7 linked regions of the Homo sapiens genome follow. The protein of the gene in region 1 purifies or fractionates together with the protein of each later gene. This does not show direct contact. Each region holds a gene or a part of one and is shown in the gene's direction. Other genes may lie near its edges. The genes, in order: CST8, KHK, STK39, HEATR6, HS6ST2, METRNL and ADGRG6.

The links.
Region 2: the proteins of CST8 (region 1) and KHK purify together in Homo sapiens (affinity purification with mass spectrometry; one large-scale study listed by BioGRID and IntAct). This does not show direct contact.
Region 3: the proteins of CST8 (region 1) and STK39 purify together in Homo sapiens (affinity purification with mass spectrometry; one large-scale study listed by BioGRID and IntAct). This does not show direct contact.
Region 4: the proteins of CST8 (region 1) and HEATR6 purify together in Homo sapiens (affinity purification with mass spectrometry; one large-scale study listed by BioGRID and IntAct). This does not show direct contact.
Region 5: the proteins of CST8 (region 1) and HS6ST2 purify together in Homo sapiens (affinity purification with mass spectrometry; one large-scale study listed by BioGRID and IntAct). This does not show direct contact.
Region 6: the proteins of CST8 (region 1) and METRNL purify together in Homo sapiens (affinity purification with mass spectrometry; one large-scale study listed by BioGRID and IntAct). This does not show direct contact.
Region 7: the proteins of CST8 (region 1) and ADGRG6 purify together in Homo sapiens (affinity purification with mass spectrometry; one large-scale study listed by BioGRID and IntAct). This does not show direct contact.

What each region holds. Positions count from the first base shown.
Region 1 is NC_000020.11:23,489,590-23,494,515, forward strand, and holds the start of CST8 (cystatin-8 precursor), read left to right. Parts: upstream 1-1,527; 5' UTR 1,528-1,753; exon of another isoform or gene 1,754-1,820; intron 1,821-1,935; 5' UTR 1,936-2,078; coding exon 2,079-2,309; intron 2,310-3,368; coding exon 3,369-3,482; intron 3,483-4,926. UniProt on the Homo sapiens protein: Performs a specialized role during sperm development and maturation.
Region 2 is NC_000002.12:27,098,354-27,101,449, forward strand, and holds the end of KHK (ketohexokinase), read left to right. Parts: intron 1-842; coding exon 843-931; intron 932-999; exon of another isoform or gene 1,000-1,066; coding exon 1,067-1,224; exon of another isoform or gene 1,225-1,311; coding exon 1,312-1,397; 3' UTR 1,398-1,430; coding exon of another isoform or gene 1,431-1,487; 3' UTR 1,488-2,082; coding exon of another isoform or gene 2,083-2,189; 3' UTR 2,190-2,409; downstream 2,410-3,096. Other genes in the region: CGREF1 (cell growth regulator with EF hand domain protein 1 isoform a precursor), read right to left, coding at 2,921-3,096. UniProt on the Homo sapiens protein: Catalyzes the phosphorylation of the ketose sugar fructose to fructose-1-phosphate.
Region 3 is NC_000002.12:168,142,876-168,147,225, reverse strand, and holds part of STK39 (STE20/SPS1-related proline-alanine-rich protein kinase), read left to right. Parts: intron 1-4,350. UniProt on the Homo sapiens protein: Effector serine/threonine-protein kinase component of the WNK-SPAK/OSR1 kinase cascade, which is involved in various processes, such as ion transport, response to hypertonic stress and blood pressure.
Region 4 is NC_000017.11:60,040,299-60,044,648, reverse strand, and holds the end of HEATR6 (HEAT repeat-containing protein 6), read left to right. Parts: intron 1-514; coding exon 515-1,086; 3' UTR 1,087-3,641; downstream 3,642-4,350. UniProt on the Homo sapiens protein: Amplification-dependent oncogene.
Region 5 is NC_000023.11:132,955,505-132,960,362, reverse strand, and holds the start of HS6ST2 (heparan-sulfate 6-O-sulfotransferase 2), read left to right. Parts: upstream 1-1,733; 5' UTR 1,734-1,760; coding exon 1,761-2,188; exon of another isoform or gene 2,189-2,928; intron 2,929-3,036; coding exon 3,037-3,555; intron 3,556-4,858. UniProt on the Homo sapiens protein: 6-O-sulfation enzyme which catalyzes the transfer of sulfate from 3'-phosphoadenosine 5'-phosphosulfate (PAPS) to position 6 of the N-sulfoglucosamine residue (GlcNS) of heparan sulfate.
Region 6 is NC_000017.11:83,091,766-83,095,622, forward strand, and holds the end of METRNL (meteorin-like protein isoform 1 precursor), read left to right. Parts: intron 1-1,401; coding exon 1,402-1,461; intron 1,462-2,490; coding exon 2,491-2,810; 3' UTR 2,811-3,357; downstream 3,358-3,857. UniProt on the Homo sapiens protein: Hormone induced following exercise or cold exposure that promotes energy expenditure. Induced either in the skeletal muscle after exercise or in adipose tissue following cold exposure and is present in the circulation.
Region 7 is NC_000006.12:142,395,614-142,399,963, forward strand, and holds part of ADGRG6 (adhesion G-protein coupled receptor G6 isoform beta 1 precursor), read left to right. Parts: intron 1-1,999; coding exon 2,000-2,142; intron 2,143-4,350. UniProt on the Homo sapiens protein: Adhesion G-protein coupled receptor (aGPCR) for steroid hormones, such as progesterone and 17alpha-hydroxyprogesterone (17OHP). Involved in many biological processes, such as myelination, sprouting angiogenesis, placenta, ear and cartilage development.

The sequences.
Region 1 (4,926 bases):
CTTTGCCACCTGCCTGACAGATTCCTGCCCCATATGTGTTTTCTGTACGTTGCCCTTGCTCATAGAACCCATTGATCTTTGCAGCCTAGGAAGAATGCTCACCTCTCTGCCTCACCAGGAACTTTCTGGACACTGATTTGGGATTTTCACAGAAAAGCAGAAGCTTTGAGAGCTTAACAGGTGCGTGCCCCCCTCCTCCCACTAAGGGCCAGGCCTGGGCATCAGAGTGGGCCACGTGACCCTTACCCTGGCAGGACAGGGCAGGGGGTTACTGTTGGCCCAAGCCAAGGGAGTTCAGAGGCCAGGCATTCAGGAAGCCAGAGTCATTGGCACAGGTGGGCAGAAGATGCCAGAGGGGCCCTGTATTAGTCAGGGTTCTTTTAAAGGGACAGAACTAATAGGATATATATGGTTGTGTATATATATAAAGTTAATACTTAATAAACTCCCCTTTATATATATATAAAATATATATATAAATTATATATATATTAATTATATATATAATATATATATAAATTATATATATATTAATTATATATATAATATATATATAAATTATATATATATTAATTATATATAATATATATATAAATTATATATATATTAATTATATATAATATATATATAAATTATATATATATTAATTATATATATAATATATATATAAATTATATATATATTAATTATATATATATAAAATATATATAATTTATATATATAAAATATATATAATTTATATATATAAATTATATATAAAATATATATAATTTATATATATAAATTATATATAAAATATATATAATTTATATATAAAAATTATATATAAATTATATATATAAAATATATATATAAATTGTATATATATAAAATATACATATAAATTATATATATATAAAATATACATAAATTATATATATAAATAATATGTATATAAAAGGGAGTTTATTAAGTATTAACTTACATGATCACAAGGGCCCACAACAGGCTGTCTGCCAAACTGAGGAGCAAGGGGAGCCAGTCTGAGAGTCCCAAAACTGAAGAACTTGGAGTCTGATGTTCGAGGGCAGGAGGCATCTAGCATGGGAGACAGATGTAGACTAGGAGGCTAGGACCATCTCTCCTTTTCACGTTTTTCTGCCTGCTTTATATTCGCTGGCAGCTGATTAGATTGTGCCCACCAGATTAAAGGTGGATCTGCCTTCCCCAGCCCACTGACTCAAATGTTAATCTCTTTTGGAAACACCCTCACAGACACACCCAGGATCAATACTTGGTGTCCTTCGATCAAATCAAGTTGACACTCAGTATTAACCATTGCAGGCCCCTGACTCTGAGGGCACAGCAGGAGGCATTTGCTTGCTCTCTGTGCCCCTGTGAGAGCTGTTTAGACCAAAGGCCGGAGGCTGGCAAGTGGGAGATGTCCTCACTGGGACAAGACACAGGTGCTGAATTACATCACAAAGCGTAACCTCCCTGCAGGGCGTGGACTCAGAGGGGCAAGAGAGACCGCAGACCAGGACCCACAGAGACCCTTGACTGGGCCACAGGCATGAACTAAGAGTGCTGAAGACCTAGGAGAACCACTGGTCAGGTCAGCTCCCAGCTCCACAGGGAGTAAGAAGGAGCTGCAGGCACAGCAGGCTGAAAGTCCACCAAGGGCTGAGGCCACAAGGCCTCTGGGGCAGCCACAGTTTTCATGATCACATCATACAGGACTGAGAAGCAGATAACAAGAGTGACGCTCACAGGGGTAGGCATAGACACACTGGGGCCGAAGGGGAGAGGAACTCTCCCTAGACACACAGATTGCTCTCAGGGTAAGGAGGGGAGGCTGGTAGAGAGACTCCTTAACTGGCATTCCTGGGTGGGTTTCCATGGAGAAAGAGAGGACAAACCCCAAAGAGTGACCCTAATGGCCTGTCTTGAATCCAGCTGGGCTGACGCTAACAGGAGGCAGTGTGTGGCTCGAAGATTCTTGAACCCACAGCAGCAGCTGCGGCCACCCCATCCTGCCCACAGCTCCAGCCCTGAGACGACGAGGAGGAGAGTCGACTTTGCCTCTTGCCCAAGGGACCATGCCCAGGTGCCGGTGGCTCTCCCTGATCCTCCTCACCATTCCCCTGGCCCTGGTGGCCAGGAAAGACCCAAAAAAGAATGAGACAGGGGTGCTGAGGAAATTAAAACCCGTCAATGCCTCAAATGCCAACGTGAAGCAGTGTCTGTGGTTTGCCATGCAAGAATACAACAAAGAGAGCGAGGACAAGTATGTCTTCCTGGTGGTCAAGACACTGCAAGCCCAGCTTCAGGTAAAGGTGTCTTTCCATATAGGTGGACATTTGCATATGGTGGCACAGTTGAAGCCAGACTGAAAGAGTGGGCATATAAGAAAAATATCACTATGCAAAAATCCTAAATATGTGAATGCTTAAGAGCCTAGACACTTCCACAGCATCAATAAGGCAGTGAACACACAGAGCACTTTCTACAAACGCTTGCGCTTTTGTTCTAAGTCCTTCGCATAGATTAACTCATTTAAACCCCAAACTGCAAATCAAATGTTCATGTATTTGCTAAGGTTGGGAGACAGATAGAATGCTAGCCATGAGAAAAGATCTGATAAAGGTGAGTCCAGGTGAACCTGGACCCAACTAGCAGACACTCCTTCATCTCCTGCTGTAATCCTTTAATGCCAGATGAAAACAGATTTAAATGGACATCACAAGTAGCCTTGATTGCATTCAGTCACTAATGAGTTCAACAAATACTAATGTCCTGCTATAAACCTACTGCTGTTCTACTCACTAAAGACTCAGCAGAGAACAAGACAGGCAAACTCATGCCTGCATGGGTCCTCATGGACTGTGTGCTGAGCTGGTGGGAGGGGCTTTGGGTGGGGAAACCCCAGAGGATGGGAGGTTTCACAGGAATCTGAGGGACTGGGGCCTAATGTGGCTGAGGGGGCTGTCCCCTGGTCAGGCCTGTGTGAACCTGAGCATCTCAGGCCCAGGAGAGCTGATGGTTCTGAAGAGCCCACCTTTCACCTCTCAGTCCTCACTGAGCATGCAGCATGCCCTGGGCTTGGGGACAGGAAATGGAATGAGAAGGCCTTGCTTTCAAGGAGGTGACAAACTGGAGAGGAGTCTTTACTCAAGTGTCCAGCTCCAGGAGCCTATGGAGTCCTGACTGATCTTGTTGTACACAGGGCTCCAGGCAGTGGGCATCTTAGCCTTCCGCTAAAGCTCTGTCTGGGGGTGAGGGAGGAAGGAAAGAGGAAAGGACGAGAGTAAGAGTAATTTTTTTTTTTTGTCAAAACTTTAAAAAAGTACAACTCTTTTGAATAAAATTGCATAATTGCTAACCAACAGGTCACAAATCTTCTGGAATACCTTATTGATGTAGAAATTGCCCGCAGCGATTGCAGAAAGCCTTTAAGCACTAATGAAATCTGCGCCATTCAAGAAAACTCCAAGCTGAAAAGGGTAGGTGATGAACCACTCATCTGTGACGGCCTAGGCAGCTCTGAACCCAAGAGAGAAAGCTGAGGCACGCAGACCTTCTCTTTGAGGTCTGGGTGGCTCCCAGTGTTTAGCCCCAGATAGCCAACCCTGTGGCCTTTATAGCAGAAGATCCAGGGCCACGGAACGTGGTGGAACCCTCTGAGCTTCTTTCTCATCCTTCATCCTGCAGAAAGGATGTTGTCAAGACCACTCTTATCTCAAGGGCTCCATTGACTTCTGGCCTTTTGATGCAGGCACACTGGACAACACATAATCACCAAAAGCCTGTCCTCTTGGGTCCAGACAAGCCACCCACTATTGCTGGGCCCATGGTCACTCATCCCCATACAGACACAAAAGGAACTTCATTCATTCACTCATCCACTCATAGAAAATTACTGAGCACCAGGTGCTACGTGCTTTGCACCAGGTCTATTCTGGGTGCTGGAGATTAAGCAATGACTAAGCCAGAGGGTGGCCCCACCCTCCTGGGTTTACAGTTGATTTTTGCTGGGGTCAGTCCAGGTTTCCAGGAAGGTTGGGGCAAACCCACAGACTCCCAACAAAAGGAGGACTTGGCCCAGGGGCTTTTGGCTTCAAGCCTGTATTTTTTATCTCAGAGCAGCTCATAGGCCAGTACTTGGTCCCAGACAGATGAAGGCCTGAGCATTCTGCAGGTTTGCCCAACAGGTGCATCACTGTCCCTGTCTTTACATTGGTGGTTCTCCAATGTGAGCAGGCATCACAATCACTTGGAGGTATTGACAAACCCTGATGACCGGGTTCCACCGGCAGAGTTTCCAATTCAGGAAATGGGATCTAAGAATTTGCATTCTTAATGAGTTCCTGAGTGGTGCTACTGCTGCTGCTGCTGCTGGCCTTAGGATCATTTTGAGAACCACTGCTTTATGCACTGCCATGGCACAGGAAATTGCAGGTACATTTATGAACTGCCCTGCCATTATGTTTGATGAAAACTGCCTCTGTATGCTCAAATGAAACAAACCCTATCATTTCCAGCTCACAATAAATGACCCGTCAGGACAAACATTTCAGCAGTGAGCTTGTCCGAATGCTATCTGATCTTTTATGCTTGTTTTATCTTTTACTGGTATTAGGAATATGGTTGCTTTAAATTTATATTTTCTCCCGGGCTTTTAGGGATTGTAGAAAAGTTTTTGCTTTTGGCAGTTTGTAGAAAATATTAAAGTGCATTAAAGAAAATTGTTCTCAAGGAGCCCACTTGTGTCTAAGATTTCCATGATACGTCTCAGTTTTTAAGACATACATGTTCAAGCAGACATTTGTCAATAATAAAAACTTTCTCTTTTTCCAAGCAGATGCATTTGGTTTCCCAAATTTGATGTAATTTGCCTGTAAAGTCATCTTGATCCAGTACTTTTTATTGCATATTTTCAATACTCAG
Region 2 (3,096 bases), on another chromosome or scaffold:
TCTATGAAAATAAATTAGGCCAAGAGCAGTGACTCATACCTGTAATCCCAGCACCTTGGGAGGCCAATGCAGGAGGATCACTTCAGCCAGTCATTCAAGATTGCAAGACCCTGTCTCTATACAAAAAAAAAAAAAAAAAATTCCTGGCATGGTGGTGTGCACCCATAGTCCCAGCTACTCAGGAGGCTGAGGCAGGAGGATTGCAGTGCCTGAGCCCCACCATCTTGTTTTTGATTGGCAGGGGTAGAGCCAAGGCTTCGGTGTTTTGTTTTTTGTTTTTACCAAAACTTTCTCTGGAGATTCTAAAGTGTAGGTAGTGTTGAGGGAGCCTCTTTGTTTTCCAGATGAAGAAACCATACCTAGAGGACATAGTTGTGGGAAAAACCAGCAAAACTGCTCCAGGGAGCCAGCATGGCGGTGGTAGATTCCACCCCAAGGTGGCGCTCAAGGCTTTCTGTGGGTTTTCAATCCATTGATCAGAGAACAAACGGACCAGGCCTTTTGTTTTACAATTTACAAGGCTGTATTCTATTATATATAAGCATCGATAAAAATATGCTTCTGGCCAGGTGCAGTGACTCACACCTGTAATCCCAGAAATTTTGGGAGGCTGAGGCAGGAAGATCATATGGGGCCAGGAGTTCAAGACCAGCCTCAGGGAGACCATCTTCACAAAAAATAAAGAAAAAAGAAAACCACGTTCCCGTGGGACAGTGAGATGCTACGTTGGGGATCTATGTGGACATGTTGGGGGAGTCGTGTTGTAATGGGGGCAACGCTAGGCTGCTGTTGGTGAATGACGAGTTAGAAGTGACCACCAGCTTCTCTTCCACTGCCCACAGGTGTTTGTCAGCAAAGATGTGGCCAAGCACTTGGGGTTCCAGTCAGCAGAGGAAGCCTTGAGGGGCTTGTATGGTCGTGTGAGGAAAGGGTGAGCCGGGGAAGCCAGGAAGGGGCTTTAGAAGGTACAGGATGAGCCTGGACTCCAGGAGTCCGCCCTGGAGCTGGGAGGATGGCTGGGGGGACGGGGTGGGCTAACACCCAGCTGAGTGGAGCCGTCTTGCAGGGCTGTGCTTGTCTGTGCCTGGGCTGAGGAGGGCGCCGACGCCCTGGGCCCTGATGGCAAATTGCTCCACTCGGATGCTTTCCCGCCACCCCGCGTGGTGGATACACTGGGAGCTGGAGACACCTTCAATGCCTCCGTCATCTTCAGCCTCTCCCAGGGTGAGTATGGCAGCAGGAGGGGAAAAGGACTGGGACCTGTCCCTGCCCCAAACACCTGGCTGACCTAGCTACTTGCCCCTCCTCCAGGGAGGAGCGTGCAGGAAGCACTGAGATTCGGGTGCCAGGTGGCCGGCAAGAAGTGTGGCCTGCAGGGCTTTGATGGCATCGTGTGAGAGCAGGTGCCGGCTCCTCACACACCATGGAGACTACCATTGCGGCTGCATCGCCTTCTCCCCTCCATCCAGCCTGGCGTCCAGGTTGCCCTGTTCAGGGGACAGATGCAAGCTGTGGGGAGGACTCTGCCTGTGTCCTGTGTTCCCCACAGGGAGAGGCTCTGGGGGGATGGCTGGGGGATGCAGAGCCTCAGAGCAAATAAATCTTCCTCAGAGCCAGCTTCTCCTCTCAATGTCTGAACTGCTCTGGCTGGGCATTCCTGAGGCTCTGACTCTTCGATCCTCCCTCTTTGTGTCCATTCCCCAAATTAACCTCTCCGCCCAGGCCCAGAGGAGGGGCTGCCTGGGCTAGAGCAGCGAGAAGTGCCCTGGGCTTGCCACCAGCTCTGCCCTGGCTGGGGAGGACACTCGGTGCCCCACACCCAGTGAACCTGCCAAAGAAACCGTGAGAGCTCTTCGGGGCCCTGCGTTGTGCAGACTCTATTCCCACAGCTCAGAAGCTGGGAGTCCACACCGCTGAGCTGAACTGACAGGCCAGTGGGGGGCAGGGGTGCGCCTCCTCTGCCCTGCCCACCAGCCTGTGATTTGATGGGGTCTTCATTGTCCAGAAATACCTCCTCCCGCTGACTGCCCCAGAGCCTGAAAGTCTCACCCTTGGAGCCCACCTTGGAATTAAGGGCGTGCCTCAGCCACAAATGTGACCCAGGATACAGAGTGTTGCTGTCCTCAGGGAGGTCCGATCTGGAACACATATTGGAATTGGGGCCAACTCCAATATAGGGTGGGTAAGGCCTTATAATGTAAAGAGCATATAATGTAAAGGGCTTTAGAGTGAGACAGACCTGGATTAAAATCTGCCATTTAATTAGCTGCATATCACCTTAGGGTACAGCACTTAACGCAATCTGCCTCAATTTCTTCATCTGTCAAATGGAACCAATTCTGCTTGGCTACAGAATTATTGTGAGGATAAAATCATATATAAAATGCCCAGCATGATGCCTGATGTGTACAAGGCTCTCAAAAAGTTCTAGTGATGATTAATATTACTGGGGATGGGGTCACCTGCCCTGAGCTGCAGGAGAGCATGGGGTGTCTGAACACCAGGTGAGGGGGAACCGGTGAGGGTTTGGGGCCCAGGGATAGACTGAGCTTTCCTCACTGGGTCCTCTGCAGCCGGCCATGGCTAGCACCATGCGCTCTGCTGCCGGAGCACCGTGAGGCCCAGAAACACTGGGCAGGCGGCATCCCTGTCCTTTCGGTCCCCAACCCCGTTCCTCTGAGAGGGTCTGGGCAGGCTGGACGGGTAGAGAGGTGGCCGGGGGGATGAATTCATTCAGTTCTTTATTGGTAATCTGCCCCTTAACTTAGGGTCTCCCTGAGCTGCACAGAAAGACCTGATACCTACTGGGACCAGGCAGGGGGCACAGAGATGGTCCTTGTCCCAGCGTACATTTCCCCTGCCCACTTCAGGGCTTATGTTCTGGCACTGAGACTTCGTGGGGTACCTGTATCTTCAAGATCTAGATCTCATCATTCTCCACTTGAACAATGTGCACCTCAAAGTCATTTTGGGTGTTCTTAGACTCCAGTGTTTCCCCTGGAAGTTCCTTGGCCTCCTCTCCATTCTCCCTGGCCTCTGCCTGGCCCCCAGCTTCCCCTCTGGGCCCGGGGGCATCTCCTTCAGCCTCTGCCTGGC
Region 3 (4,350 bases), on another chromosome or scaffold:
AATTATAAAGAGATAGGTTTTCATGATATAAATATGACATTTAGGATTAACCAGTGAACCTCAAACCAGTTTTTCTGTGTTGGGTAATCACAACTTGATCTTTACTCAGAGAAGAGCTTAGGAGTTGCGGAATCTTAACCCCATTATTGCATTTTGCATTTCCTTCTCAATAAAGAAAAATACACTGAACTTTCCGGAAGAGGAGACTAGGGCTAAGTGGCTGACTCCTTTCTGAAGGACTGTGAATTTTATTCAGACCTTCGATAACTTGCTGTGTGTTCCTTGGCAAGTCATCTAATCTTTTTATTCCTTCCTCTTTTCTTAATTCCAATATCTACTAAATCATCGTATTTTCTTAAGAATTGGTCTAATCCTCTCCATTTCCAACCTCTCTATTCATATACAGGCTCTGTTGATTTTGCTCCTGGGCTATGGTTGTGGTCTTCTCTGCTTCTAGTCTTTTTCCTTTCTTGAACATCCCTGCATGGTCACTTTTTCCAAATGTTGTTCTTCTCTAACGAGAGAGGGAACAACAGCTGTTAATTGAATCAGGTACAAATTCCCTTACCTGGTGCTCAGACTCTGTGGTTGGTTGGGCCCCTCAACAATCTCACCCAGTACTTCCCTGCTTTTAAAAATAATGGCCTCTGTGGAAAAGAAGCTGCTTGTAGGAAAGAACTCTCAGGGTCCCCTGAAGCTATGGGGGCTCCTATTGCTCCAGACTCCCACCCAGCCACTTAGGCATCAGTGTCTCTTTTAACTCATTGTAGCTACATTTTAGGAAGCTCTGAACTCTCAAACATTGATCCCGTTACTCTCTGATCAAAGAGAGTCAATGTTGTTCATGCACAACTCAGGTTCCTTTTCAAAGAGAATAGCAGATACTGTAGAAGTTTGAGGTAGGTGAGGCTTGGGTACTCACCCACAGCTTCCCTTACAGGTTTTAGAGAAATCAACTTTCAGACCAAATTTTGCCCTTCATTAGCAAGCAAGCCCCTAAACAGTTCTCACAATTTGTTCTGTAAGCTCAAGGAAATCCCAGTTCTTTTTCCTCATAGGTGAATGAAAAATTCATTAGAGGCAGACATGCCAAGATTCCAGATGCAGTTTTTGCTTTATCCTTATGCTTGCTACTAGGAATCCAACCATCCACAGAACTGGCTAGGGTATAGTCTACAGTTGGACTGGACTGGATTGTTTTATTCTGTTCATGCAAGAGTAAGGAGTATATCTAAAATATTTTAGCCACTCTCTGGTGCTAAGAACCTTTATTTTCAGCAGTGAAAGCCCATTTCTAACATGTATCATACCTCTCAACAGGTCACTGTTTTCCCTAATAATAACCCCTTTGGACAATCAGTCACCTGGCTTATGCTCATCTATATTTAGATTTGGATAATAGAAATACTTCCAGCAGCTGCCTCTGGCATCCTGAGTCGAGTGCTATCAGAACCCCCCCAGCACTGGACATTCTTGGTTAGAATGCCAGCTGACCACCTAGGTTGTGGTATCACAAACATAATATCACATGGCATATGTTGAAGTATTTTAGGTACATTTTAGACATCATAACCACACAGTTGGCAGACTTTAGTTTTGCGGACTAAATTAGGCAGGAGAAATCGCTTTTCTATTTTTTTAAAAATGAATTTGTTGCCAACTACAGTAAGAAAGGGAGCTTTTTCATAAAGATTCCAATGTTTGGCTTTTTTGGGAAAACTGGGATATCCAGCAATCCTGGGTCTACATTTCTCTATGGCAACTTTCTTCTGGTGCCAAGCAGCAGGGGCCTGCCTTGGACCTTGGTGGGAGGGTGCTGACAGTGGGCTCCAGGGCTTCACACAGGGCCCAGCACTCCTAAAGTCTCCCGTCACAGAGACTGAGCATCAAGGGCCCTTGTCACTGAGACTGTAGCTGTTGTTTTTCAGGACCCTCTTTTCTCCATTGTATTCCTGCCTGGCTGCTGTAGGTGTTTTGAGTTTTTGACCCTTGCAGCTGTCAGTTTTTCTTCTTGGCTCCACACTTGTGCTTTGCTCATGCCGTTTCTTTGTCTGGAATTTGTTTCCTGTTGGACTTGCTCATCCAAGTCTTCACCTCATCTTGAAGGCTGGCTCCAAGACCCACTTTGGAGATAGTCTTCTATGACCATTATGGTTATAGCTCCTCTGCTTCTACACAGACAATATAGTATTTGATTTTATACATCTTATCCTACTTAGGTGGGAATATTCTTTTTTTTTTTTTTCTGAGACGGGCTCACTCTGTTGCCTAGACTGGAGTGCAGTGGCATGATCATGGCTTACTGCGTCCTCGACCTCCTGGGCTCAAGCGATTCTCCCATTTCATCCTCCTGAGTAGCTGAAATTACAGTTGCATGCCACCGCACCCACCTAATGAACTATCATGCCCGACAAATATTGTTGAAGTCAAGAAACATGTCTTCTCCTATTTTATCTCTGCCACTGTAAAATATTTATGCTTATCCCCTCAGCCTGCTTGCCTTGCTTATGAAAAGGCAGTGAGTAGCTTATCGATCTACCTAACAGTTGTTATAAAGAATAGTCATACATGGTAAAAAAAAAAATGAGTCTTATAAATATGAAAGTAATATAGAAATTGAGGCTCGGCATGGTGGCTCATGCTTATAATTCCAGCACGTTGGGAGGCTGAGACAGGAGGATCGCTTGAGCTCAACAGTTTGAGAACACCTTGGGCAACATAGAGAGACCCCATATCTACAAAAAATAAAAATAAATTAGATGGGCATGGTAGCACATGCCTGTAGTCATAGCTGCTTGGGAGGCTGAGGTAGGAGGATCGCTTGAGCATGGGAGGTTGAGGCTGCAGTGAGCCATGATCATGCCACTATGTTCCACCTTGGGCGACAGAGCGAGACTCTGTTTCAAAAAAATAAAATAAATAAATAAAAATAGGCCTAAATAAGAAGCCCAATAAGGCCCAGAAAGTTTAAGTCCCTTTCGGGAGTCATACAGTTGGGTAATAGTCTAGCCTTAGGCCTAATCACTGTTAACACTCAGATCTTGCCCATTAGTCCTGTAATGTTTCCTAGTAGATCTGCCACTCTCCAAATCAGATAACCATACCTGCAGATCCTCCTCAAGGCTTAGTAGCATTCACACATCAAAACTAGACCATGACCAATGTTACTGAAATCAAATTACGCAAAGGTGATGAATGCACATCAAATTACTCACCAAGAGCCAGGGTGCCGGAGATGCTGTGTCATTAACAAGGTCATGCAGAAAGCCTTCTGCTGGTGCACCTGTTCAGCATGGAGGGTTGATGTACCTAGACGACAAAGCATCATGTGCAAGGGCAATGCTGGTGAGGCCAAGGAGGTGATGGGATCAGGGAATAAAAAGTAAGTCATTCAGTAGGCTGGAGCTTACTGTCTGAATCTGAGAGTAGTGATATAGGTTTACGTGTTATGCTGAAGGATTTTGACTTTTTCCTGAGGGGACAGGGAGCCTTGAAAGACTTTTTTTTTTTTTTGAGACAAAGTCTTGCTCTCTTGCCAGGCCAGAGTGGAGTGGCATGATCTCAGCTCACTGCAACCTCCGCCTCCTGGGTTCAAGCGATTCCCCCGCCTCAGCCTCCAGAGTTGCTGGGACTACAGGCGCGTGCCACCAGGCCCAGCTGATTTTTTGTATTTTTTTAGTAGAGATGGGGTTTCACCATGTTGGCCTGGATGGTCTTGAACTCCTGACCTCGTGATCCACTTGCATTGGCCTCCCAAAGTGCTGGGGTTACAGGCATGAGCCACCGCTCCTGTCCTGAAAGTCTTTTAAGGAGGGCTCAGGCCTGTGACATAGAAAGGCCTGGTTGCTGGAGCCTGGATCTGGGGAAAGAAGGGAGATGGGAACTTAGGAGGCTGCTGCAGAAATCTTAGCAAGAAGTAGTGGTGGATTAAATGAAGGCAGTGGCTGTGGAGGAGCAAAGAAGTGGATGGATTCAGAAGGTCTTAGACCCTTTTTGTTATTAGGATGACAGCATTATTTGTTGTTGTTGTTGTTTTTCTTAAAGCAGCATTTACCCATATCCTCCAGTTATTCCTGGAGGCAGGGAGATGGACTGGCTAACTTTATGTGTAGCCTTTGATTCTGTGTTTCTAGAGAAATGTCTGTGGTTTTGTACCCAAGTGAATCTGGCTGCATTCCCTTTGGCTGTATAGATGTACCCCTTAGGAAACAAGGACAGCTTTTCACTGTTACAGTTCTGCCACCTTGTTCTAACTGTCATATGCAAGCTATCTCAATATAATATACCAATTTTTTGTGTATATAACATAAGCACACTATGTACTTTGCTCAAAATGTTCTGTTACTGAGT
Region 4 (4,350 bases), on another chromosome or scaffold:
TCTGGGCATCTTATTCTTGAAATTGTAAGTTTTCTTTTTCTTTGCAATAAAATGCATGACTGGCTATGGCCAGAGCAGTGTCTGGATGCTGTTGCAGGTGAGCATGCAGTGTGTGGCTTGCACACAGCTCAGAAGTGCCCAGCTGAGAGGATAGGTGGGGTTGCAGTTCAGTCCACGCTCTGCCCACAAAGCCATACCCCAACGGGACAGAATCCTCCCAGAGAAGAAGCCTTTTTCTGAGTCACCAAAGGCTTTATATTGGGTAGCAGAGGCTCTAAGCGTGTGGCAGGCTGAGGTAGGGAAAGAGGGAGGTTTGGGGATTGGCACCTGGCCACTTACCTAGGATCCTACAGTCAGTCACCACCCTTGTCTTACAGGATGATTGTGAGAATGAAGTGAACACATAAAATGAGTGTCTTGAGCACTAGTGTTTAAGCTTCCTTCCACCCCTCTCCCTCTCACCCCACCTAGTTCTAAGCCTGCATTTGTTTTAGTGACTGTGGATTCTTTCTAGGGACAGCCCCATGGACCTCCCAGGCCTACAATGCCCTGACATCGGTCGTGACATCATGCAAGAACTTCAAAGTGCGCATCAGATCTGCAGCTGCCCTTTCCGTCCCGGGGAAGAGAGAGCAGTACGGGTCTGTTGACCAGTATGCTCGGATCTGGAATGCATTGGTCACCGCTTTACAGAAGAGTGAAGACACCATAGACTTTTTGGAATTCAAGTACTGTGTCAGCCTACGGACCCAAATCTGCCAGGCACTGATTCACCTCTTGAGCTTGGCCAGTGCCTCGGACCTCCCTTGTATGAAAGAAACCCTTGAACTGAGTGGGAATATGGTCCAGTCCTATATTCTACAGTTTTTAAAATCAGGAGCAGAGGGAGATGACACTGGAGCACCCCACAGCCCACAGGAAAGAGACCAGATGGTCAGAATGGCCCTTAAACACATGGGCAGCATCCAGGCACCAACTGGAGACACAGCCAGAAGGGCCATCATGGGCTTTTTAGAAGAGATCCTGGCCGTTTGTTTTGACTCATCTGGATCACAAGGGGCACTCCCAGGGTTAACAAATCAGTGAAGATCCCACCATACTTTCTAGATGTCGAAGGCGGCAGTAGGAAGACCTGAGCTTGAGCATAAGATCTGTGGGATTTCATCTTAGGGGCAGAAACAATCCGTTCACTATTTATTTAGAATGACTTAGCAGCCATTTAAATTTTCACAGAGGGCTCAACCACCTTTGGAGTGACTCCATAGCACTGGCCATGGTCAGGGTTGTTGGAACATCTGACCTGTGCATCCAGGAGCCGAGGAGTCAGGTTGTAATACAGGCCAAGCAGACGGGCTTTGAGGGCATTTAGTCTCAGAAAAAAAAAATGTAGAAGGATTTCGGAATTAGAATTTTGTGTATTGTATCTGTAGTTTTGTAATAAACTAACGAAAAATAGTGTGTCCACAATCTCCTGTTGTTACCAAGTTGTATTTCTAGCAAGCTGCAAGCAGAGCTGCAGTTCAGCCAGTTTGTCCTGGCCCAGCTGCACAGGATGCGAGGATGCTGACAGTGCCTCACAGCCGCACAGGACCGAGGATGCTGACGGTGCCTCACAGCCACACAGGACGCGAGGATGCTGACGGTGCCTCACAGCCACACAGGACGCGAGGATGCTGACAGTGCCTCACAGCCACACAGGACGCGAGGATGCTGACGGTGCCTCACAGCCGCACAGGACCGAGGATGCTGACGGTGCCTCACAGCCACACAGGACGCGAGGATGCTGACGGTGCCTCACAGCCGCACAGGACCGAGGATGCTGACGGTGCCTCACAGCCACACAGGACGCGAGGATGCTGACGGTGCCTCACAGCCACACAGGACGCGAGGATGCTGACGGTGCCTCACAGCCGCACAGGACGCGAGGATGCTGACGGTGCCTCACAGCCACACAGGACGCGAGGATGCTGACAGTGCCTCACAGCCGCACAGGACGCGAGGATGCTGACAGTGCCTCACAGCCGCACAGGACGCGAGGATGCTGACAGTGCCTCACAGCCGCACAGGACGCGAGGATGCTGACGGTGCCTCACAGCCGCACAGGACGCGAGGATGCTGACAGTGCCTCACAGCCGCACAGGACGCGAGGATGCTGACAGTGCCTCACAGCCGCACAGGACGCGAGGATGCTGACAGTGCCTCACAGCCGCACAGGACGCGAGGATGCTGACAGTGCCTCACAGCCGCACAGGACGCGAGGATGCTGACAGTGCCTCACAGCCACACAGGACGCAAGGATGCTGACGGTGCCTCACAGCTGATGAGCTGCTGCTCCGAGCTTCTGGAGTGCCCGTGTTCCCCTGACCACCTTCCCTGCCACACCTCCCCACAATCCAATAACCAGAGTTAACTCCCAGCAAGCAGGGCCTTCTAACCTAGGCTACAACATTGACTTCTACCTACATTTCCTGATGCTCTTTAGGAGAATGTGATCCCACACACTAAATATATGGTTGTTTTGCCACCTTTTAATTTGTGCCTTTAAGAAAAGATCATTTGGTTAGTTGGTTACAAAGAGGGGTTTCCAATTATATTTTGATAATGCCCCACAAGTTATGAAGGTAACTTCTACTGAATATATATATTTAAATTTTGCATTTTTCTACTGAGCACCAACGATTTATTGGAATTGATTTCAATTAGGAATTTAGGGATATATAAGAACCAATTACAGTTGTCCATACTTATCTTTGATGTGGGACAATTAAGAAGTTACAAAAAATGGGTGTTGGTGATATTTTATCATGGTTATTTAGCTTAAAATACACGTGTAAAGGCAGGTGTCTTCCATTTTTCTCCTTTGCCTTTTAGCTGCTGTTTTCCTGCCTCTGACATGTTGGCTGCTCAGAAACTGCTCTCTGGGCAGTGATTGGGGAACAGGGTATTCAAGTTCACTAAAGGCTCAATTTTCCATTGATAGAATATCAGTGTCCACAGAATTAAGACTGCAAGCACAGCAAAGACACCCATATTGAATGTTCCCTTAAATTGCTTTTATTTGGAGACAATTCTGAACATGAAGTGTTATAGAGGGCCCAGGAAACTAAGTTGAGCCCACCTGACCCTGTGATGAATCTTGGAACTTCCGTCTCTTGAATACATTCTTAGTAGTAGCTTCTTGGCATTTTCAAAAAAGGAAAAAAAAAATATGGCATAGACAGCTTATTACTGTGATTCTTTGAGTTTTCTCAGGTGAGTTTTTTGATAAAATATTTGTGAAGTGGCCTCATGGTTTCATTTGATGATTCACTCTTATCCTTTCCTTATCTTGAATAAAATCCCATTCATTTTCTTTTTAAAACTTCAGCTTCTGTAAAGGTTTCCAGATCCTGATGTGGATGTTAATGTTCATGTGCAGGAAAACAATGAAGGCATAGCACCTCTAGAAACTTCAGAAGGCAGTGGTACCTGCTGTGTCCCAACAGTATGCTGATTCTCTTCTCTGCAGCATTGTGGGTGTACATACACTAAAGGACAGAAGCTCCTCATATGCCTGGGCACGTGCCTCCATAAAGCTGCTGTGGGGAAAGGAAGCCACTGACAATAAAGACAACTTAAGCTGATGAAAATCAGCACACAGCTCCACTGGTTCAGATTTCTAATGCAGAATGCCAGATTCTAAATTATCTTTTGACACTTAAAAATTGGGAGGAAGAGTCATCCAGGCACAGATGGCTAGGGCCCTTGTCCATTAGACTACAGCATTATGAGACGTTGCTTATCTTACTCTTTGAACCTTTTCTGTGACGAGTAAAAAACAAACAAACAAACAAAACATTAATTCCTATCCCCTTCCAGAACTCAAGAAAAGCGCCTCTTCTGAGGTTGGGTGCCATGGCTCATATCTGTAATCCCAATAGGCCAAGGCGGGAGGATCACTTGAGCCCTAGGAATTCTAGACCAACCTGGGCAATATAGGGAGACGGTCTCTACAAAAAAAAAAAAATTAAAAATTAGCTGGGTGTGGAAGTGCGCACCTATAGTCCCAGCTACTCAGGAGGCTGAGGTGGAGGATTGCTTGAGCTCTGGAGGTCAAGGCTGCAGTGAGCTGTGATCGCACCACTGCACTCCAGCCAGGGCAACAGAGTAAGACCTTCTCTCTAAACAACAAAAAAGGAAACCTCCTATGGAGCACCAATGCAAAGGTGTCCTTGATTTTGGTATTTGTGCTTGAATACAGACCATGAGCAAAAGCCTCACCATCTTTCCAGCATAAGAGCTAAGTAAATCAAATACTCTGGTTCATTCAGCCTTTGCTGCATTGATGTAGTGCAGTGGTTAAGAGCTTGG
Region 5 (4,858 bases), on another chromosome or scaffold:
CCATGAGGAGAGCCACCTATTGGGTAGGCTAAAGAGGTTGACTGCAGTGAGTGGCCAAGCAGAAGGCAGGGGCAGCTGGCAAGCAGAGCTCCGGGGCCACCCCCATAGCTTCCCACTACCCTGGCTCACACCCTAAGCTGCCCTCAGGGGGAGCAGGCCTAGGACTACCAGCCTGGGCACCAGGGGAGCTCTTGGGGAAGCTGAGAGGTCAACCTTGTAAGTTACTGCATCTGGCTTCTTCGCACAAGTTCATTGGGTTTTCAGAGTGTTCCTGGAACCTCAGGACAGGAGATGCCTGGAGTGCTAGAAATTCAGGATTCCCAAAAAATCCACTATCCCTTATGTCTGCAGCTGGACAAAGGGTCCCTCACGGTCCCCAGTAGGTTTGGGGGCACGTAGAAGTCTAGCCAGGGCTGGGAATTCTAGGGGGTGGTAAAGACAGGGTGCACAGCCACAGAATTGCCTGAGAACGGCCTGTTCCTTATTTGGCCTGTGACGCAGTTGGCACATTGAGCTTAGAGCAACAGGTAAACACAGCCTCACATTTGGAGTGGCCTAAAGGTTTCTACATTTCATCCCCACGGTGACTCAGTTGGTCAAAACAGGGGACATAATTGGTCCTATCTTACAGACAAGAAAACTGAGGCTCAGGAGGGGCAAGTGATTATCCCAGTGCTGCCCAGGGACAGATTTCCCAGGACTTCTGGACTATTCTTAGGCTTGCCGCTTCATGGCATAGATAGAACAGGAAACGGATGGAGCAGAGCTCAGCAAGGGAGATACTGGGAGAGCCTGTCTCCAGGAGGGACATGCCCCCACCCCAGGACTCAGCTCGTGGTCTGCATTCTCCCACTCAGTGGCCCCAGTGCCAACAGCACTGCTCAGAAACACTGCTGCCAACCGGTGCCCCTTCTGTAGCAGTGGGACTGGAGGGAGTTGCACACTCAGTCACGGAAACACCAGTGTCCTGATGTACAGCAAGCCCCTTTGATCAATCAGATGGGGACAGACTGACTCCTGAGTTCCCAGGGTCCTTTTCCTGAAGGAACATCCATTCTTTCCCTGTTAAACCCTGCATTCCTGGTCCAGCAGCAGAAAAGAGCCTTTCGGACACTGGAGCTTGAGGAAGATCTGTGCCTATTTATTAGAGAAGGTGGTGTTAGTATCAGGAAATAGGTGGATGGTGCTGGGTTTCTTGGGTTCAAACCCTGGGGCTCTGCTGTGTGACCTTGGGCACATCCCTACCCCTCTCTGGGCCTCAGTTTCCTCATGTGTCACATTACCTTGGATTAGACGGTCTCACTCTGATGGAGTTTTTAGTTATGTATCCATTCATTCAACAAACCTTTTATGAGTCAAGCCCTCCTGCAGGCACAGGGTTTGGTACACAGGATTCAGCAAGAAGACAGTCTGTGCTCTAAAAAAGGTCAGATTCTCATTCTGTAATGCTTTTTGGTCCTGCTGTCTTTTTATCATGCTGACTTACCTTTTCAGAAAATGCCCCCGCTTCCGCTGGAGAATGGAAATTGGCAAAGAGAGACGGAAAAGCTCCAATTTGCGCCTTTGCTATTTTAGGAGAGGTTGAAATTACGAGCCAAAGTGGAGTGATGCGCTAAGCGGAGTGACCTCCGTACTCCAAGAAAAGAGAAAACCCAGGTTCTCTGCTTGTGAAGTGGCTCGAGCTCTTAGGCGTGAGGCATTATTATATAAATTCAAGCTCGCTCGTGATCCTTAGTACCCTGAGTTGCCTGAAGGGGGGAATGGCACTGCCTGCGTGTGCAGTCCGGGAGTTCGAGCCGCCGCGGCAACCGGAGCGAGGAGCGCCCGTCCGCACCACCTGTCCCCGCCGGCATTCCAGAGTAGAGGCCGAATTGGCAGCGAGCCGGCCCGGGTCGGTCGCCGCCTCAGTTCGCGCGGGCCCTCCTAGGGGTGTGTCTCACGGATTCCACACCCGGCCGCTCCTGGACAAGCCCCGAAAGGCGTCTTCTTCCCTGGCGGGAGCCGCGTGCGCCCCGCTTTTCGCGCTGCTGTCCCGGGGCCGCCGCAGGCGGATGCACGTCCTCAGGCGACGCTGGGACCTGGGCTCCCTCTGCCGGGCCCTGCTCACTCGGGGCCTGGCCGCCCTGGGCCACTCGCTGAAGCACGTGCTCGGTGCGATCTTCTCCAAGATTTTCGGCCCCATGGCCAGGTACGTTCTAGGTGAAAGCGGGGTTCGCGCTCCCAGGCCAGGGCGCGAAGGTGCTGTACGGGGAGGGAAGGCAGCCGCGGGGGGTAGAGAAGGGCGTAAAGTTCCAGCTGGCCATTGGTGGCCCGGCTAGGGTCTCCGGAGGGGTGCGGCGCGCATTTGCCCACGCCGCGGCTCCGTCGCTACTGTTCCGCGGGCACCGGCAGCGCAGCGTCTCCGATAGCAAGTCGGGCTGCCGGCCGGCTCATTCCCCCAGGGTAACTCTGAGCCCCCGGCTCCGAGCTCCCTCGAGGCCGCCTACCGGGTGGGCAAGCGGGCGCGGGCGCCGGCAAAAGGAGGGCTTCGGGGCATGCGGGGAGAAACCCGGACAGAGGTGTGCGCTCCAAAGAGGATAGGGGCAGAAGAGCCCGGAGAGTCCGGCGGACGAAGCGGGATGGGGATGGGAGCGGGAGCCACCGAGAGTGGAGCGAGACACGCGGGGGCCCGGACTGGGGGCGTGAGTTGAGGAGTGGGGCGACTGGGCCCGGAGGGGTCCCACTGGGGCTAAACCCCGTGGAGGGGCTCCGGGGAGCTCCGGAGAGCTCTGGCGGGGGGAGGGGGCGAACGGCCCGCGGGAAGGAGTCGGGGTGGGGGTGTGTGTGTGCCGCAGAAGCCACAGCGCTGAGCCTGCCGGGAAGGAAGGAAGCGGGGAAGGGAGCCGCCGCCGCAGCCGCCGCCGCCGTGGAGTACTCGGTGCGGAGGGGAGGGGGAGAGGGGCGCAGCAGCGGCTCCAGGGGAAGGGGGCGGTGCGGGGGCACGACGAGCGCGGGCTGAGCTGCGGGATTGACGTAACGAGCTTGGGTTTCCCCCAGCGTCGGGAACATGGATGAGAAATCCAACAAGCTGCTGCTAGCTTTGGTGATGCTCTTCCTATTTGCCGTGATCGTCCTCCAATACGTGTGCCCCGGCACAGAATGCCAGCTCCTCCGCCTGCAGGCGTTCAGCTCCCCGGTGCCGGACCCGTACCGCTCGGAGGATGAGAGCTCCGCCAGGTTCGTGCCCCGCTACAATTTCACCCGCGGCGACCTCCTGCGCAAGGTAGACTTCGACATCAAGGGCGATGACCTGATCGTGTTCCTGCACATCCAGAAGACCGGGGGCACCACTTTCGGCCGCCACTTGGTGCGTAACATCCAGCTGGAGCAGCCGTGCGAGTGCCGCGTGGGTCAGAAGAAATGCACTTGCCACCGGCCGGGTAAGCGGGAAACCTGGCTCTTCTCCAGGTTCTCCACGGGCTGGAGCTGCGGGTTGCACGCCGACTGGACCGAGCTCACCAGCTGTGTGCCCTCCGTGGTGGACGGCAAGCGCGACGCCAGGCTGAGACCGTCCAGGTGAGTGCGCGCCGGTAGTCGAGCGGGACCCGGGCCTAGGCGGGCGGAGGGCTGGGAGGCGCGGCTGGCCCAAGCCGGGGACCTAGCGCGCACCCTGACGCCCGGGCGTTTGCACCCCGGCTGGGCAGGTGCTGGGCGCCCAGTAGCGCACGTTCGCCGCGCTGTGGCGGCCACAGAAAGGCTTTCCGCTCCGGCCCCGGACTGACCGTCTGTCTGTCCGCAGGGTGGCCTGCGTGATGGTTGGCAGAGCGTGCGGGGGAGGCGGCCGAGCGGCCGGAACGGGGCCGCTGGGACGGGGCATCGTACTCAGTCTCCGCACTGGAGAGCCCTAAAGAGCCGCGCTCTCCGTGCAGCGTCTCTGGATCCCTGCTTTCTTCTACTCTGCACCCGGGTTCCGAAGTCTCCTTTCAGCGCTCTCTTCCTCCTTTCGGCGCCCGCATTCTTCCCTCCCCCCGCTTTCCCCCCTATTTCGTCTATTTGCCTTGTTCTCCCTCTTTCTCTCTTGTGTCCTAGATGTTGTCTGCTCCTGTTTGCTCGCTGTTTCCTTCTTTCCATTCCCCTCTCTCGCTTTTATTCTTTTTCTCTCTTACCCTTTCTGTTTTTCTCTTCTTGCCGGACTTTTATCACCTCGCTCCTTCCCCGCTCTGGCTCTGGTCTTCCCGGGCGACTGGGTGTCCCTCTGTCGCTATTTTCCGACATCCAAGGAGAGCTCATGGTTCCCAGGCTTGCTTATCACTACTGGCTGCATGAGAGGCATCCGTGGCTCTTTGGGAGTGGCGGGGGGCACCCCGCGGACCGAAGGGCGGGCTGGGATGGTGCCCTGGACCCCATGTGGGGTTCAGTCACCAGGAGCCTCTCCTGATTTACAAAAAATATTTAAAAAGCTTGAGCCCCAGCATGGGGCGCTGCCAGCCCATGTTCTGTGAGCCTGGGCTGATGCGGTAAAAGCTGATTTATTAATAGTCTGTAGCCAGAAGCAAGGGTATTTTCCTCCCTCCAGACGCGATGTCCAGTTGCTAGAGGTCATGCAGTACTGTAAAGTGGGTGGTGGTGGGGTGGGGGAAGTGAGTGCTATGGGGTGCAGTTAGTCCAGCCAGGGCTACTGTTTCGCAAGTCTCCTTAAAACAAATCTGGGCTGAAGCAGGGAGTCCAGGGGGTGCACAAGGTGAGTTTCATGGCCTGGAGGCCTCTGGATGGGGTCTCTGGGCCGGCAAGGACATGTCTGTGTCCCATCCCCATCCCCCGGGTGCACTTGGTACCCTGGACAAGGGGATGCTTTGCAGGTGACTGTTAGAACGCAACA
Region 6 (3,857 bases), on another chromosome or scaffold:
CCTTCAGAACGTGAAATGGCACCGGCGAAACCAGTGCCATTGAGATTTCACGTCTCAAAGTTTCTATTGCGTTAGGAGACTTGGGGCCAAAACCTAGAGGCTCAGAACAGGTGAGGCCTTGAAACCTGCAATAAGAGCAAATAATAAAACCATGTTTTCCAAGTCCGTCCCGAGTGTAGGAATGCGGGGCGTGCAGAGGTTTCTGTTTCACAGTGGCCCGCCCATCTAAGAAACTGGGGCGAAGGGCAGGGCGAGGGCTGGGCCGAGGGGAGAAGGTTGTTGGGAAAGCCTGGTTTGGCCGGTACGGGAGCTCATTCTGAGAAGCCTCCGTGCTTTCCGCATTCTCTGGGGGAGGCCAGGCCCCGCAGGGTTCAGGGGCTTCAGAGGGGGTTCTGTGAGCAGGGCTTGGCTTGAAAGCCATTTGGGGCATGCACCTCATCCCGCGGCCAGGTGGCATCCGGGGAAGGGGCCGGGCCGATGGCCCTGACTGGAACTCACTGCCCTGCTGGGTGAGGCCCCACGCCGGTGGCAGGTGGACGCGTCGCTGCCTGCTTAGGGATCCCCTTCCTGGAATCTTGGCCTCGCTGGCCCTTCCAGCCACATGGGGGGTCCCGCGGGATGGGATCCTCCTTTTGGGTGCCGCTGCCGTCGCGACCCAGGGAAGTGGGCAGCAGAGCTGTGGGGAGTGTCTGCCCTTCGAGGAAGCTGGGAAATGAGGGTGGTCCCGGCGCCGTGGGCCGTGGAGGTGGGTTGGGGGCGACTCTGGGAGGTGGGGGTGCTCCTGGCGCCGTGGGCTGTGGAGGTGGGTTGGGGGCGACTCTGGGAGGTGGGGGTGCTCCCGGCGCCGTGGGCTGTGGAGGTGGGTTGGGGGCGACTCTGGGAGGTGGGGGTGCTCCCGGCGCCGTGGGCTGTGGAGGTGGGTTGGGGGTGACTCTTGTCTGGTGGGTTCGGTTCAGCCCCAGTGGGCTTTGCATTTGCAACAGGCACGTGAGCGATTTCTCAGTGAGTCCGGCTCAGCCGCACTGAGGAGATAAGTGGGGAAAGAGCACAAAGACCCCTCCCCACGAAGGCCCTGGGACATGGCCGGACTGAGGGTCTTGCTCTCGGACATGTGCCCATCATGGCCGAGGTGCAGGTGCCTTTGGTCCAGGTGGGGCCGAGGGGTCCCCTGGGTGAGACCCCGTCGTGGTCGAGGTTGTGTTTTCTGTCTCCCGTGCTGCCGGCCCCTCCAGCACGTGCCGCCAACTCACATTTGAAGTGGCGTTGGTCACAAAGGTGCCTTGACGTGGACACCCTCCCTGACTTGGCTTTGCTGAGTGTGAGGATCCTTTGACGGTGGTGGGCGGCGTTCCAGAGCCTGTCCCGTCCAGGCTGCTTCCTGACTCTGCCTTTCTTCTCCAGCGCCGTGCCGTCCCTGCAGTGACACCGAGGTGCTCCTAGCCGTCTGCACCAGCGACTTCGGTGAGTGTCTCCTCGGCAGCTTCTACCTCCTGTGCTCCTGGTTTCTGCCACATGGAGCTGTTTGGGCCCAGGAGTCCCTCTTCAGGGCCCAGGACAGCCTTCCGGTGCTGCGTGGACCCTCCTGGAGGGGCACACGCTGTGGAAGCCCTGGGCTCGGCCCTCCACCAGCCCTGGGGACAGGGACGCCACCGCCCACACTTGGAGGGAGCTGGGGGTTGTTTTGGTGACTGTCAAACATTTTCCCATTTTGTAAATGAGATCACTGCTCTTCGAGGGGACTCTTGAAGTCCACTGTCTCCCAGCAGCTCTTCTTGCTGAAGTGCTTTGTAAACAGCATTTTATCAGCAGCCCAGAGCATCCTTGGCGTTGGACACTCCTTGCCCCCCACCAGAGTTCACGCTGTTCCAGGCCTGAGGCCCCCGGCGGCTCTGCGGCTCTGCAGGAGGAGCTTTGGGGTCCCAGGGCTCCAGCCCCTTTGCTTGTGGCGTTTGCACAGACGCCCTGTGGGAAAGGTTTGGCCTCCCGTCGTGTGGTGCCGTGGAAGCCATGTCCTGCAGGCCCCGGCTCTGCACCCCACCTCCAAGCTCAAGGACAGGCCCCTTCTCACTGCTTTCCCGGCCCCTGGCATGGAGTTGGGGCTGGGCAGGGGTCTCCAAGTGTGGCGCGAAGGCTGTCCCCATGCCCACCCTCTCCTGTGAGCTGCACCGGGTCTGTCTGATCAGGACACAGAACTGCAGGGGCACCCTGTGTATCAGCTGGACTTGTTTGTTCTGTTTTCCCATTTAACAGGTCTGGCCCTTGGTAGAAAGGGCACCTGTTCTCTGACGATGTCTAAGTATCTGGGACACCCCTTGGCAGCTTTCTGCTGTTACATTGTACTTTTCTCTGGGAATTTCCACGCTAGATGGCAGAGTCGGGGGTCAGCTGCCCGTTCCAGTGCCCATCGATGCGGGGGCAGGGGGAGGTGCGGTGGTCTTGCTGTGTGCTTGCCTTTGCTCACTCCCTGTCCCCATCTCCTTCCCCGCACAGCCGTTCGAGGCTCCATCCAGCAAGTTACCCACGAGCCTGAGCGGCAGGACTCAGCCATCCACCTGCGCGTGAGCAGACTCTATCGGCAGAAAAGCAGGGTCTTCGAGCCGGTGCCCGAGGGTGACGGCCACTGGCAGGGGCGCGTCAGGACGCTGCTGGAGTGTGGCGTGCGGCCGGGGCATGGCGACTTCCTCTTCACTGGCCACATGCACTTCGGGGAGGCGCGGCTCGGCTGTGCCCCACGCTTCAAGGACTTCCAGAGGATGTACAGGGATGCCCAGGAGAGGGGGCTGAACCCTTGTGAGGTTGGCACGGACTGACTCCGTGGGCCGCTGCCCTTCCTCTCCTGATGAGTCACAGGCTGCGGTGGGCGCTGCGGTCCTGGTGGGGCCGTGCGGTGAGGGCCGCGCGCTGGGAGCCGCATGCCCTGGGCCCAGGCCTGACCCTGGTACCGAAGCTGTGGACGTTCTCGCCACACTCAACCCCATGAGCTTCCAGCCAAGGATGCCCTGGCCGATTGGAAATGCTGTAAAATGCAAACTAAGTTATTATATTTTTTTTTGGTAAAAAAGAAATGTCCATAGGAAACAAATTCCCGTGTCTTAAAACGCCTTGGTGTGCCGTCTGATACTGTTCTCTAAAGACGTTAGGAGTCACGGCATCTGGCCTGCGGTTGGGTGAAGCACTGGCCGTTGGGCACAGTGGATGTGTGAAAAGGTGCCATTCAGAGTTGTTATTCTCATGACGGAAGTTTTGGAGCCAAATAATACGTTTTTTATTTTCATTTTATTTTTAAAGGATGAGCTTTGGTCCTTTTCAGGCCGCCGGTTGTTTCCGTTCCCGAGAATAAAGACGAGGATCCGACCAGCCAGAAGCCGGAGTCTGTCTTTCGCCAGGTCCGGTGCCCACGGCCCGTGTTCAGGGCCTCGCTGGACGTACCCCAGGGCGCCACCCTGCCTCGGCAGACACGCTTGCTCCGCCCGGCGACTGTCCCTCAGCGCCTGCTGCTGCATTTCCATTAATGCAGGTCCTGCCCTGTGGCCCCAGCCTGCCCACAGTGCAGGGGCCCACAGCTAGTCTCTAGACGCCCAGGAGCTGGTCTGAACCCAGGTTGGTGACCCCATGTCCCCAAAGGATGCGGCTACCAGAACAAATCACCACCGACTGCGGGGCTGAAACAACCTCGTTCTCTGAGTTCCTGAGGCCACAATCCAAAGTCACGGTGTGGGCAGAGCCTCTCCCTCCAGGGCTCCAGGGGAGAACGCTTCATCTTCTCCTCAGCCTCCAGGGGTTCCAGGGAGGACCCTTCGTCTTCTCCTCAGCCGGGGGCGACCCTTCGTCTTCTCCTCAGCCGGGGGCGACCCTTC
Region 7 (4,350 bases), on another chromosome or scaffold:
AGAAAATTATAGGGAGAATGAACTGAGACAGTGTATATAGCAAAATCCACATATTTAGGGGCTTTTTGGTATGAACTCTTGCCATTATTTAATATTTATGTTTATAGCCTTTCTTGTCTCTTTTTTCTATTCTCTATGGCTCTTACCCTCATTGGTGAGGCTTTATAGTCTCAGTTTTTGTCAAAACCACAGTCTACTACTTTTACATACATTGTTTTTTAAAAAAACTTTTCCTTTCAATTTGATTGTATCACTTAACACAGACCATAGCTTCAGATAATGCTGTCATACTCTATTGCCTAGACAGACAGGAAACCAAAGCCACAGAGAGGTTTTTTTCAAATAAAGAATGGCTGATGGTAACAACAGATAGAATGTAACTTTGTAGAACCATAAAATAGTTTCAGTTTTCAGGATGAGAGAGGAAAACACACAGATAAGACCTGTGAAAATGTATGGCTATTCCTGACTTGTTGGGTTTGGGTATTCAATATCACCCACAATACTTTGGGCTAATTATGTTCTCAGTATTCAAGACAAGTAAAAGGTCACATTCCCAGCTGTAAGTTCTCACCAACTGGAGTGGCGAAGCTTGTCTTTAAACAATGACTTAATCCAGGGATACTTTTTCATGGGCCATTTTAAAAATTGTTAAGCTATCATAGTCACATCTATGTTCACAGCTATCATTATATTCATTATGTTTGCCTCATCCTGAAATATGGCTTGTATGCGAATGGTAAGCAGTAGATCATTTTAGAGAGAGCTTTTCAGAGTTAATTATGAGAAGAGTAGAGCACCTATTCCTTGAAATTAGCACAGATATTTAGGAAAGAAAACTTGAGCTATTCTTTAATTTCACCTAGCCTTGAATAGCAAATATTTCACATATTCCTTCTTATTTTTTAACACCACAAATAAATTACTACTATAATACTTATTAATATTCATAGTTTCATAAATAAAATGTCACTGCCTCTCCACTAGACATTCCATAACTAGTTTAAAAACAATACTACCACTTTGTCTTTGGCGTGAAGACAGTAACTGATCTCAATAATATAACGTCTTATCTTATTCATTTCTCCTCTGAATATGAAGAAGAAACAATTTTTTTGTGAATCCAGAGCTTTCACATATAAGCAAAAGAAATTCTCCTCTACCTGACAAAATAATGTTACTTACTTTTACCTCAGTGTTAAATTAATAGTTTTGATTTCTGCTTTTGACTATAGCTGTGATTGTAGTGGAACAGAAAATTATATTACTTTAAATTGTAGAACCAAAAGTTTTTAACAGGGCTTTGGGGATACATTTCTTTGCTTCCCATAGAGGTATTTCCTTTTTAAAGACCTTCAAAGTCAACCATTCTATAACCTTCTTAAGTAATATGCTGACCAATCACAGAGTCGATTTTAAGTATTTATTTTGTGAAACTTTTTACCATAAAAAGTATTTGCAAATGCCTCATGGAGATAGAAAATCATTTGTTGCTATTCTGAAGAAATTATATCACATTCATGAATAGTAACACTTTTATAGTGTTAGTAAATATAAATAGTTAATTTCTAATAGTTAGAAATGGTAATTTCAAAAGATAAATGGTCAGTTGAAATCATAGTTTTATTAAAAAAAATTAATTTGGGGCCACAAAGAAAAAATGTAGAATTAACCACAGGAATGCTGTTTTCTTGTGTTTATGCTTTAAATGACTATATAATGTATTACTATAAATATTAAATATTAAAATATTTCTGAAAAGAAATGGAGTTATTTGACAGAATTATACAAGCAATAGCCTATAGAATCTATTAATATTGGAATATTTTTAACATTATAATTTACACAGCAGCAGAGAAAGTCTGTGAGCACCTTGGCTAATCTCTTCAGTCTCAACAGGTGATGGTCATCCCTCTACATCCAAATACTCTGTTTCTCCTACCAAATGACAAGCAACCAATGAACAACAACAACAGTTCTATCCGAAATGTTTCCCTAGGTTGGTGCTTTGGGCCCTTCTAGTTTACAATGCTACCAACAATACTAATTTGGAAGGAAAAATCATTCAGCAGAAGCTCCTAAAAAATAATGAGTCCTTGGATGAAGGCTTGAGGCTACATACAGTGAATGTGAGACAACTGGGTAAGTGACTAATTTTTTTATAATATGCATTTTATACAACTGTATATTCAGGTTTACTTGAAACAACAGCAGAAATTTTCTTTATGCGCTATTTGTTTATGTAAGTTTTTTTTCTGATGGTGAAGTTCAGTAACAAATGAATGACATAGCAGAAAAAAAAAATCAGCTCAGTGTCTGTGAATCCAAGGGAATGAAGGAGGTAGATGAAAGTTTATATTTTACTTTAGGAACATATTTTGAAAATACTAACAATATGAACAAAATGCCAGAATAATCTTGATCATCACTGTTGTCAACTTTAGGGAAAAAAAAGAGTGTGTAGATGTGAATGTGGGAACTCTAATGAGATAAATCTTATAGAAGGAGATTTCCTGTTTTAAAACATCTCCTGCTGGGCATGGTGGCTCATGCCTATAATCCCAGCACTTTGGGAGGCCAAGGTGGAGAATAACTTGAGCCCAGGAATTCGAGACTAGCCTGGGCTACACAGGGAGACTGTCTCTACGAAAGATTAAGAAATTAGTTGGGTGTTGTGCTGTGCACCTGTAATCTCAGTTACTAGGCGGGGCTGAGGCAGGAGGATTACCTGAGCTTGGGAGGTCAAGGCTGCAGTGAGCCATGTTCATGCCACTGCACTCCAGCCTGGGCAGCAGAATGAGACCCTGTCTCAAAAAAACAAACAGAAAACGTCTCCTTCTCTCATGTTCCCTGTCTCTATTAGTGATACCACTGTCTTCACAGGACTAGGTCATGAATGTAGGGATTCTGTTGGACCTAAAATCAAGTTTCTCCTGGAGATCGTTCACATCCTAAGCTCTAGCCACACATATGGCACGGCTTGTACTTCCACAAAGAGGCTGTGCTGCTTCCTTTAGATACCCTTTCTATATCTTTGCACACTGTTCTTCTCCACTCCCACCGGCAACCTCATTATCACCTATGTATTTTTAAAGACAGCTCCTAAGTCAGCTCTTCTTTGGAACCTTTTCTGAAATAAAGTATAGACATCACTGCCTTTGAGCCTCTACTTCATGCTGTCCAGATGCCTAGAGCATCATATGCATCAGAAGACCATAGTACTTAGAAGACTAGATATATTTATGTTCACATATATATATATGTATATATTCTGTAAACAATAATCTCTGACTTAAGATCATATTTTCTTTTTTCTTTAACTCTTACTTCCCACATATTTCCAGAACCCAGCACATTCCCTGGAACTGGAACACTTGTTGAATAGACAAATGAATGAGTCTGCATGAGAATATTTTAGGAAATCAAATGTTCACAAATATGGATAACAAAAAGCAATTGTTTTAATGTTATTCTATGATTGCAATTATACTGTGATTAGGTACATTAGTAGAGATCAAAAGAAAAGAAAACTTTGACCCTTCGCCTTCTCTACACTCAGGAGGTTGAATTGAGGGAGGCAAGTGTTCCTCAGCCTTGAAGAGGGCGATTGCGACCAAGGCCATAATCACAGTCTAGTAAAGAGGCAGGCATCTCCACTTCTGTGAGGAGCCACCCATCTCTATTGGGTGGATGTACACCGTTACAAAGAACTCATAGAGATGGATGAATGCAAATAATAATACTAATCATGGTAATAAACCATTTCTGAGTCTCTATGGGAAAATACTTCTTAACAAATGGGGCTTTTTGGAGGGAGGGAGAATGCAAGCTGCTACCCTTTCACGTATAGGAGTCTTCACAAAGAAGGAGTCTGACAAATGGTAGTTTATCTATGACTGGAGAACCCTAGGAGGACCAGCACTGGCTCTGTCCTCATAGGCTGTGAAAGCCCAGCACCACTCTGTCCATATATTTAGACATTTAATTTATACCATTTAATTTAAATTATCCGTTTTATTGTTTTTCTGCAAATGAATCTGTGGATAAGCGCTTCTACCAATGGAAAAATAAAAGGCTAAAACCTAACAGTTTTAAAGTTCACAGTATACATGGGAAAGTTATTTGAATTTTCAGTTGGTGATGACAGTACTTGTTCCCAGAAAACTGATATAACTCACTAATGCTCAGTACTGAAATACAAGAGTTTATTGTTGTTGTTGACGTATTGCTGTTACTTTGATATCCTTTAAAATGTAGAATCTGAATCATTGATGTCATGAGGCTTACTTAGAGAGTCGTCAAACAAAAAGTCAGATGATGTGAGGATAAAGAAGTCTGAGAGTTTGTTGG